Homo sapiens: one gene and its partners. The protein of the gene in region 3 interacts with the protein of the main gene of each other region in a pairwise test. Each region holds a gene or a part of one and is shown on either strand. Other genes may lie near its edges. The genes, in order: YIPF1, VSTM1 and TMEM248.

Evidence for each region.
Region 1: the proteins of TMEM248 (region 3) and YIPF1 interact in binary tests that used the Homo sapiens proteins (3 or more experiments, as listed by UniProt).
Region 2: the proteins of TMEM248 (region 3) and VSTM1 interact in binary tests that used the Homo sapiens proteins (3 or more experiments, as listed by UniProt).

The regions. Positions count from the first base shown.
Region 1 is NC_000001.11:53,869,198-53,872,947, forward strand, and holds part of YIPF1 (protein YIPF1), read right to left. Parts: intron 2,292-3,750; coding exon 2,175-2,291; intron 1-2,174.
Region 2 is NC_000019.10:54,062,043-54,065,792, reverse strand, and holds the start of VSTM1 (V-set and transmembrane domain-containing protein 1 isoform 1 precursor), read left to right. Parts: upstream 1-1,895; 5' UTR 1,896-2,015; coding exon 2,016-2,049; intron 2,050-3,750.
Region 3 is NC_000007.14:66,952,140-66,955,889, reverse strand, and holds part of TMEM248 (transmembrane protein 248), read right to left. Parts: intron 2,665-3,750; coding exon 2,521-2,664; intron 389-2,520; coding exon 368-388; 3' UTR 1-367.

The DNA of each region.
Region 1 (3,750 bases), on a different chromosome or scaffold from region 3:
ACATATCTTTCTATGTACACACAGTGAACTAGCTGAAGGCAGGGTTTCTATCTCATGGTTAACATTTATTGCATTAAACTCAAACCAAGGTTACTGGATAAATAATGGGATTGAATATATGTGCACATATTTTTGTGTGTGTGTGTGTGTATAGTAATAGTTAATGTTTATTGAACTCTTTTTGGTACAAACCACTATTCTAAGCTTTTTATATATATTAACTCTTTATTCTTACAATAGTCCTGTAAGATAAATATTATTATTTCCATTTCACCAATGAAGAATCTGAGGCTCAGACATAAAATAGCTTGCCCAACAGAGTAGAAGCTAGTGAGTGGTGGAGCTGGAACTGAAGCTAGCAGTCTAGTTCCAGAACTGGTGCTCTTATCCAGGCTACTTACAGCCTCTCGACAGCAGAGCAGGCAGGGAGAGAGCGAGGGAACTGAGAAAGTGGTACAGGCCAATCTCCGACAAAGCCAAACTTCCTCATTTGGGGGCAGCTGTCATCTGCAAGTCTCTAAAAGCTGTTTTGTTTTTTCTTCTAAATACCCAATACTGACATAAGAAAGGACGTTTTAAAACAAGAATGTCATTCACAAGCCCATCCCTAGGACACATTCATTTCTGCATTTTCCCTTCCAGGCTTTGATCATTTGCAGACTTCTTTCTCCCCGCTTTTTTTTTTTTTTTTTTGAGACAGAGTCTCTCTCTGTTGCCCAGGCTAGAGTGCAGTAGCGTGATCTCGGCTCACTGCAACCTCCGCCTCCTGGGTTCAACCAATTCTCCTGCCTCAGCCTCCTGATTACAGGCATGCGCCACCATGCCTGGATAATTTTTTATTTTTAGTAGAGACGGGTTTCACCATGTTGGTCAGACTGGTCTCGAACTCCTGACCTTGTGATCCACCCACCTTGGCCTCCCAAAGTGCTGGGATTACAGGCTTGAGCCACCGCACCGGGTCTCTTTTTTTTTTTTTTTTTTTTTTTTTTTTTGAGACAGTGACTCGCTCTGTCACCCAGGCTGGAGTGCAGTGGTACGATCACAGCTCACTACAGCCTCAATCTCTGGGCTCAAGTCATCCTCCCAACTCAGCCTCCTGAGTAGCTGGGACTACAGGCATGCACCACCATACCCGGTAACTTTTTTTTAGTTTTTAGTTTTAGAGACAAGGTCTCACTATGTTGCCCAGGCTGATCTCAAACTCCTCAGCTCAAGCAATCCTCCCACCTTGGCCTCCCAAAGTGCTGGGATGACAGGCATGAGCAACCATGTCCAGCCCAGATTTCTCTTCAGCAAAGTTGCTAACAGAATAGGCACCAGTTTGGAATAAGTTATGAATTTTCCACATAGCTCTAGGTGCTTTGTGACTGGCAATTGCAGATGACCCCAGCTAGTTGAGCCATCACAGCCTAAAACAATGTTTCTATTGTCTCCAAAATGTGGATAATACAAATAATGCCACACAGGAGACCTTCACACACACCTTTAAATTATTTTGTACACTTGTCTTAGAATATATTCCAGCTGTGGCCAGGTGTGATGGCTCACACCTGTAATCCTACCTAGCACCTCGGGAGGCCAAGATGGGAGAATCACTTGAGCCCAAGAGTTTGAGATCAGCCTGGGCAACACAGGGAGACCTATCTCTATAAAAAAATAGAAAAATTAGCCAGGTATGGTGTTGCATGCCTATGGTCCCAGCTACTCAGGAGGCTGAGGTGGGAGGATTACTTGAGCCCAGGGAGGTGGAGGCTGCAGTGAGCTGTGATCGTACCACTGCACTCCAGCCTGGGTGACAGAGCGAGTCACTGTCTCAAAAAAAAAAAAAAAAAAAAAAAAGGAATAAACTGCAGTTGCTATTCGGCCTTGATTTACAGCTTTCCCAAAGATTATGTGGACTCATAACATTGTGAATGTACTTAATGCCATTGAATTACACATTTAAATGGTAAATTTTATGTAATATATATTTTACCACTGTAAGAAGAAAAAGATTATGTGGATTTATATAGATGGGTGGTAAACTCATCTACACATTTGAGTAGATACATTGAACCCTAAAACACAAAAGCAGGGCTGCAGCATCTAGAGATGGGGCCCAGGAGCTCAGTGGGTAAAAAGAACTCAAAGCTAGAAACTGACAGCATTCCAAATGAGTCAAGCTATTCACCAACCTTTTCGGAATTCGGGCACATAATGGTACGTCTTCTCTCCCAGATGGATCAAGAAGTTGGAAAGATTCCCACTAATTGCTATGGCAAAGACCAACGTGGCACATATCCAAAAGGGGCCTGCAAAGGAAACCAGAAAATTCAGAAACAAGAAAATGAAGCATAAGCCTTTAGATTCTTACAGAATTTCTTATCTTCCTCTTGTATTCATGTTAGCAAAAGAAAATGAATTTTCTAGATGGGATCAACACTTGCTGAAGGGAAATTTTTTTTTCAAAGGTCAAACACACATCTCAGTAATTAGCTGCCTTAAAGAAGGTGGGGTGTTGGTACTCCAATCCAAAGGCCAAAACGCCTTCCACAATTAGGTGAATGAAGACACTGATTTCTGTATAGCTTCTTTTGTTGGAGGATCACCACCGACAAAGAAAAATTCACAGGCTTTTTATTAAACCTTCCACCAGAATACATGAAGTAAAGATTACTTCGCTTATCTAAGTGCCAAATGTTAGCATCACAGAGAAAGAAGTTAAATCAGACAGAGCTTGTGCAGCATACAGAAAGAGCAGGGCAAACAGAACACATGAGGGCAGAGTCGATTAAACCTACCAGTTCACCACGGTTGTGTTGAGTGTCAGTGTGTGTGTGTGTGTGTGTGTGTGCTTAAGGCTTTTTCTTTTTTTTTTTAATGAAAAAGTAATACAATGCACTATATACACCTACTGTCTACCCACAAAAATTAAAATTAAAAATTAAAAAAAGTAATATATGTATATGGTCCAGTGTTTCAAAAGGTACAAAGGGAATATGGAGAACAGCAAGATCCACTCCCTCTCTGTGCCCCGGCTCTCTATCTTTCCTCCCTAAAGCTCACCAAAGTAAGCAGTTTCTGATGAAACCTGCTAGGAATATTCCACTCATGTATATAAGCAAATGCATGTGTATATGTGCATATTTTATACAGATGATAACATACATATATGTCCTCCTGTGTACCCTTCTATTTTCACCTTAATATAGCCTGGTGAGTCTATCACAGCTACTCATAAAAATCAGCTTGTTCTTTTTCAATGGTTTTAAGATATACCACTGAGCAGATGAGTGGACCATGCTTTACAAACCTCTTTCATTATTTGCATGATTTCGTGAACACTATCCTTGTCTCTCCCCATCTAGAAAAAGTACTATGTAGAACAAATACTATCTTTAGATTGAGAGATTTTAATAAATTGTATGAATTTCATTTTTCAATTTCACTAATATTTTGCAACACCCTTTGGGATAATTTCAGGTACCTTGACACGTCACAAAATTACGAACATTACTGTCATAGGTGAGATGACTAGCAGAAACAGATTAGTACTTTTCAAAGGCAAGCACTGGCCCCTGAAGGTGGGAAAAGGAACACAAGCAATCAAATGGGTATGCTTCAAAAAGTCACCAATATTAGCTCTCCACAAACTGCCTCTTTACTCACTAGACTGAAAGCTTTCTGCTGTAGACAAGGACTAAATCTCACAGTATTATTCTGAGTGACCACACATAAGAGTGGCAAAAAAAACCAACAACAAACAAAAAA
Region 2 (3,750 bases), on a different chromosome or scaffold from region 3:
CCCAGTGACACACATTGTATCCATTAGATAATTCTTTTTTTTTGATGGAGTCTTGCTCTGTGACCCAGGCTGGAGTGCAGTGGCGTGATCTCAGCTCACTGCAACCTCCGCCTCCCGGGTTCAAGCGATTCTCCTGCCTCAGCCTCCTGAGTAGCTGGGACTATGGGCGTGTGCCACCACGCCCGGCTAATGTATCCATCATCATAACACACAACCATTTGAATGAATCTCACAGGCATTGTGCTGAGTGAAAAAGGTCACCCTCAGAAGGTGAGGCGATGGACGATTCCATTTATACAAGAGTCTCAAAGTGACAAAGTGATAGAGACGTAGAACAGATTAGCAGGTGCTAGGGTGGGAGAGCGATTATAAAGGGGCAGCATGAGGGAGTTCCTACGTGGTGGTGGGACAGTTCTGTGTCTTGATTGTGGCGGTGGTTCTATAAAGCCATACATACAGGCAATAAAATGTTACAGAACTATACCCATAGGCAAAGAAAAGGGAGGAGGAAAAGAAGGTGGAAGAGGAGGAAGAGCAGGAGAAAAGAAGGAAAAGGAGAAAAGGAAATAGAAATAGAAGGAAGAGGAAGAGAAAAAGAGAAACGAATTATGCACAAACTGGTGAGATCTGAGTGACCTCTGGAACCTGGTTAAACGTGTGATGCCAGTGCAAAGTCTCTGGTTTTGAAAATGTGCCATACGCCGGGCGTGGTGGCTCACGCCTGTAATCCCAGCAGTTTGGGAGGCCGAGGCAGGCGGATCGCCTGAGGTCAGAAGTTCGAGACCAGCCTGGGCAACATGGCAAAACCTCGTTTCTACTAAAAAGAACAAAAAAAATTAGCCAAGAGTGGTGGCGGACACCTGTCATCCCGGCAACTCGGGAGGCTGAGGCAGGAGAATCGCTTGAACCCGGGAGGCAGAGGTTGCAGTGAGCCAAGATTGTGCCACTGCACTCCAGCCTGGCTGACAGAGATTCTGTCTCAAAAAAAAAAAAAAAAAAAAAAAGTACTGTAATTATAAGAGATTACCATTGGCCGGGCACAGTGGCTTATGCCTGTAATCCCAGCACTTTGGGAGGCTGAGGTGGGCGGGTCACTAGAGACCAGGAGTTCAAGACCAGCCTGGCCCACATGGTGAAATCCCATCTCTACAAAAAATTAGCTGGGTGTGGTGGTGCATGCTTGTAATCCCAGCTACTTGGGAGTCTGAGGCAGGAGAATCCTTAAACCCATGAGGCAGAGGTTGCAGTGAGCCGAGATCGCGCCACTGCACTCCAGCCTGGGTGACAGAGCAAGACTCTGTCCCCCCCGCCCCCCAAAAAAAGGTTAACATTGTGGGGAGCTGGCTAGTGGGTACACGGAAGCTATAAAGCTATAGGTATTAATGTTTGTTTGTTTGCTTGTTTGAGACAGTTTCACCGTTGTTGTCCAGGCTGGAGTGCAGTGGCACAATCTTGGCTCACAGCAACCTCCGCCTCCTGGGTTCAAGCCATTCTCCTGTCTCAGCCTCCGGAGTAGCTGGGATTACAGGCATGCGCCACCATGCCTGGCTAATTTTGTATTTTTAGTAGAGACGGGGGTTTCTCCATTTTGGTCAGGCTGGTCTTGAACTCCCGACCTCAGGTGATCCGCCCGCCTCAGCCTCTCAAGGTGCTGGGATTACAGGCGTGAGCCACCGCGTCCGGCCGGTATTAGTGTTTTAAAATAAAAAATTACATTTACAGAAAACTCTTGGCAGAACTTCAGATAAGGTAGGACAGAGCTCGGGCGGGTGGGGCCACACACACCGGATTCATGGGGAAGAAGTTATCATCGACGGCTTCTTGTTTCCTGAGTCGGTTGTGAGAAGGAAACTGCAAGAGTGGGGCAGAGAACCAGAGTGTCAGAGCAAAACCTCCTCTATCTGCACATCCTGGGGACGAACCGGGCAGCCGGAGAGCTGCGGCCGGCCCAGTCCCGCTCCGCCTTTGAAGGGTAAAACCCAAGGCGGGGCCTTGGTTCTGGCAGAAGGGACGCTATGACCGCAGAATTCCTCTCCCTGCTTTGCCTCGGTGAGTCTCCAGGACTGGGACGAATGGGCTTGGGCTGGTGAGAAAAACTCATGTGGGAGTGGCAGTCCAGGTGGAAATGCGGTGTGTGGAAGTAATGACTTCCAGGTGTTGCACACCTGCGGTGGGTGGGTCTGGGCTGTGGGTTCTGTGAGTTCTGCCGCCCACATGCAAGCGAGGAGGAGGCCGCGCTGCAGAGACACGGGGACAGACTCCGCTGGGAAAGGCAGAGCTGCTGTGGGGTCTCCGAGTCTGCAGCCGCTAAATACCGCAGTACTGCCATCATCCTCCGTCGGAATAGAGGAGGGCTGGGCTTAGGGATCTACAGGGTGCAAGGCTGTGGGCAAAAAGACAATTTTCTTCTCTCTCTCTCTTATTTATTTATTTATGTATGTATGCATTTATTTATGAGACAGAGTCTCACTCTGTAGCCCAGGCTGGAGTGCAATGGCGTGATCTGGGCTCACTGCAACCTCCGTCTCCCAGGTTCAAGCGATTCTCCTGCCTCAGCCTCCCGAGTAGGTGGGACTACAGGTGCAGGCCACCACACCCGGCTGACTTTTGTATTTTAAGTAGAGACGGGGTTTCACCATGTTGGTCAGGCTGGTCTCGAGCCCCTGACCTCAGGTGATCCGCCCGCCTCAGCCTCCCAAAGTGCTGGGATTACAGGCGTGAGCCACCACACCTGGCCCCAAGAAGACAATTTTCTGACCAGCTCGATTCTTAGGCTGATTTTAACCATCCTCCAATTGAACCTGATGTATTCAGACAGAGCTCACACTGTGAAACGGATGACCTGGGTTATAATCTCGGCTTTACTACATAGAAACTCTAGGCTTGACCCAGCAGAGCTCCACCTCCCTAAGGCCCCAGTTCCTCCCTGGTGCACGGGGGGTGCGGTGGACATCGACGTGCTTCGTCTGCTTCAGTTCCTTCCTCCTTTTCTGGGTGCAGCCCTTCCTTGTGGGGTAATGCTCGTCTCCTACACACATTTGCACCTTAGATGAGCATTTTTTTTTTTTTTTGACAGAGTCTTGCTTTGTCTCCCAGGCTGGAGTGCAGTGGTGTGATCTCAGCTCACTGCAACCTCCACCTCCTGGGTTCAAGCGATTCTCCTGCCTCCGCCTCCCGAGAAGCTGGGATTATAGGCACACGCCACCACGCCTGGCTAATTTTTTGTGTTTTTAGTAGAGATGGGGTTTCACCATGTTGGCCAGGCTGGTCTCAAACTCCTGAACTCAGGTGATCTACCCACTTCAACCTCCTAAAGTGCTGGGATTACAGGTGTGAGCCACTGCACCCGGCTATTTGTGCCTTAGAGATGACTATCGGGTTCATACCCAAGCCTCCAGCTGCTGAGCACAGTAAGCTGGGCAACCAGGAGACTGACCTCATCCCCCAATGGCTGCCATACCAAAGTACTACAAGCCTGGTGGCTTAAAGGAATTAGAATTGCTTTAAGTTGGGGAGATGAGAAGTCTGAAACCAAGGTGTTTGCAATGTTGATTCCTTCTGAGAACTATGAAGGAGCGTCTGTTTTATGCCCCTCTTCTAGTGATGGCTGACAATTCTTGGCATTTTTTTTTTTTCTTGAGGCGGAGTCTTGCTCTGTCACCCAGGCTAGAGTGCAGTGGCATGATCTTTCTCACTGCAACCTCCACCTCCTGGGTTCAATCAATTCTCCTGCCTTAGCCTCCCAAGTAG
Region 3 (3,750 bases):
AAACTTCAACCCCATCAGCGACGCAATGCTCCTGTGACCTTGGTGAAAACATCGTCGTGACCAGCTAGATCCAGGAATCCTTCTCTAGAGACACGTGGAAACGTCCCATCAGGTAGGTCCTCAAGTCCAAGGTGGGGTTGAAGGGCTCTGGCTGTACCCAGGGCAAAGCACGTGCATTATTGGACCAATTTCTGAATAGATTTTTATAAATATGTACAAATCAGTTACAGGCACTTGAAATGTCTTTGGCTGGAATAACCCAACATCGCAAGATAATGTATTCACAGAGCATCCAGGCCCAGGCTGGGTTCAGCAGGCAAGGATTATGGTTCTCTCAGTCTCTCTCAAAAAACAAGGAGCTGTGGAATTAGGCTTCAGCCAAAGCCACCTGGAAGACAGCAAGCCAGGGAAACCAGTCAAAAAAGGGAAGCCTAGGTAACTCAGCCCCTACCCAAAGACCAGGATGCCACACTAATTGCACATATCAACCAGACAGTGAAGTTACTAAATCCCTAAAAAGAAAATCTCACCTAGGAAGAAATTACTAGAAATCTCAAAGTCTCCTGCAAGACGCGGCCCATCTGGAACCACTGTGCGGAGACAGAATTAACTGGTTTTTGTTTTTTTGAGACACGGTCTCGCTCTGTTGTCCAGGCTGGAGTGCAGTGGTGCAATCGTAGGTTACTGCAGCTTCCAACTTCTGGGCTCAAGCAATTCTCCTTCCTCAACCTCCCCAGTAGCTGGGAATACAGGCATGCACCATTACATCTGGCTAATTTTTTAACTGTTAGTAGAGAAGGGTTCTCACTATGTTGCCCAGGCTGGTCTTGAACTCGTGGGCTCAAGTGATCCTTCTGCCTCAGCCTCCTAAAAGTCCTGGGATTACAGGTCCACCTAGCTGAGGTAACTGTCTTTAAACCTTGATAAGCATTCTGTTAGAAGACTTCTTATGCTGATGGAACTACAGAGGAGGCAGCTACCCAGAGTCAGTAGTGCTCCAGTGGAGACTTGAGAACAACTGCCAAGTCACTCCCTTTAATAGCAACAGAGGCTTGGGTATATGATTAAAAATCCAACAACATAATTTAGGTTGAGAGTAAAGACACTTCTAATGAAGACAGAAACTACCGCTGGCCTTCTGTAATTGTGGGTTTCATATCCACAGATTCAACCAAAAATACACAAAAGAGGGCTGGGCATGGTAGCTCACACCTGTAATCACCTGTAATCTTTGAGAGGCCAATGTGGGTGGATTGCTTGAGCCCAGGAATTCAAGACCAGCCTAGGCAATGTGGCGAAACCCTGTCTTTTCAAAAAATACAAAAATTAACCAGGTGTGGTGATGCATGCCTGTGGTCCCAGCTACTCAGGAGGTTGACGATCGCTTGAGCCTGGGAGGTCAAGGCTGCAGTGAACTATGATTGAGTCATGAGCTACGATCGCACCACTCTACTCCAGCCTGGGTGACAAAGTGAGACCCTGTCTCAAAAAAAAAAAAAAAAAAAATTAAAAAAGCAAAAATACTCAAAAGAAAAAAAACCAATACATAAGAATACAACAATAAAAATAACACAAGTTTTAAAAATACACTGTAACAACTATTTACATAGTATTTACATTGTATTAGGTATTATAAGTAACCTAGAAGCTGGGCCCAGTGGCTCACGCCTGTGATCCCAGCACTTTGGGAGGCCAAGGCAGGTGGATCACTTGATAACAGCAGTTCGAGACTAGCCTGGACAACATGGTGAAACCCTGTATCTACTAAAAATACAAAAATTAGCTGAGTGTGGTGGCACATGCCTGTAATCCCAGCTACTCTCGAGGCTGAGGCAAGAGAATCACTTGAGCCCAGGAGGCAGAGGTTGCAGTGAGCCAAGATCGTGCCACAGCACTCCAGCCTTGGTGACAGAGCAAAACTCTCTCAAAAAAAAAAAAAAAAAAAAAAAAGAAAGTAATCTAGAGATTAACGTTACAGAGGATGAGCTGGGCACAGTGGCTCACACCTGTAATTCCAGCACTTTGGGAGGCCAAGGCGGGTGGATCACTTGAGGTCAGGAGTTTGAGACCAGCCTGGCCAACATGGTGAGACCCGGTCTCTACTAAAAATGCAAAAACTTAGTGGGACGCGGTGGCTTGCGACTGTAATCCCAGCTCCTCGGGAGGCTGAGGTGGGAGAACTGCTTGAACCTGGGAGGCGGAGGCTGCAGTGAGCCAAGATAGTGCCACTGCACTCCAGCCTGGGAGACAGAGCGAGACTCCATCTCAAAAAAAAAAGTTACAGAGGATGTGCAGAGGTCATATGCAAATACTGTACCATTTTACAGAAGGGATTTGGACATTCATGAATTTCGATATCCACCAGGGTCCTGGAACCAATCCTCCTCGGATACCAAGGGATGACTGTCATTTCTTTAGACGAAAGGTGCCACCCACAATAAATAGAATAAGGATAACTGGGACTTTCTGTATACAGAGACCTCTAGTAAAATGCTGGCCCGGACCCCATCCACCGCTCACCTTCTCGGGACAAAATTCAGGATTGCTCTGACGCAATTTGCTAGGTCTGCCCTTGATAACAGCATAGCAAAACATTGTTATCACCATCACAAAGAGGAAGTAACTGGTGTGCATGAGATGCAAATTTATTAATGAACGGTCATCCTAAATAAAGAAGAGAAAAAAAATCAGAAACATCTGCTCTGAGTGACTGAAAGGTTTTAATGCTGGGTTTTGAGAGACAGGATTGACAGCCTCCAGACTTGCCACAACTTTTCTTCTTAAGCTGCAAGAGGAGGTTTCTCCTTTTGCCTCCTAAATGACCAAAGCTGGGTCTCATTAAGTGAAGACATGGTGCTCCCGAGCCTCTGTTGGAGAGCACCACGCCTTCCTAGCGCTGTCCTCTGCCCTGCCTTCTGCACCCCCACACTGCCTGAACCCTGCCCCTCCAGCAGGCTTCCTCCCCTGCAAATGCTGCAGACACTCCATCTTTAAGCCCCACTCCTTTCTGGACACATCCTCGTCACAAGACTGCCCTCAGGTTGCATGGCTGACAGCCGAGGCTGCATTCCTAACTCCTGACTATGCCCCCACCAGGAAGGCCTCGGCACCTCACCCCTCCCCAGGGGTCACGCCCTTCCTCCTGCTTTTCTCTATTTCCCTAAGTCCTTGGATGAAAATGCTGAGATCATCCGTGATTCACTACCCTTTGACCTCCCACATGCAGTCAATTCCCAGACCCTGCAAGTTACTAAAGGGACCCCAGACATGGTTCCATTCCTTTACCCTCTAGTATCTCCAGGCCTCAGGACAGCTCTGGGCTCCCCCAGGTCATTTATAACATAGCGGGGCAGCTCAGTCTTCTCAACACACTGCTTTACCAACACCCACGCCCCAAACACAGGCAGGGACTGCCCTTGGCCAGGCACTAAGGGCCTCAGCCCACCATCCAGCCTGACCTCCATAGCTGGCTCCTGCAGGACCCTGGCCTACAAATGAGCCCCAGAAAAGGGCAAAGGTCGGGCATAGTGGCTCATGCCTATAATCCCAGCACTTTGGGAGGCTGAGGTGGGAGGATCACCTGAAGTCAGCAGTTCAACACCAACCTGGCCAACATGTCGAAACCTTATCTCTACCAAAAATACAAAAATTAGCTGGGCGTGTTGGCAGGTGCCTGTAATCCCAGCTACTTAGAATCACTTCAATCCAGGAGGCAGAGGTTGCAACGAACCGAGATTGTGCCACTGCACT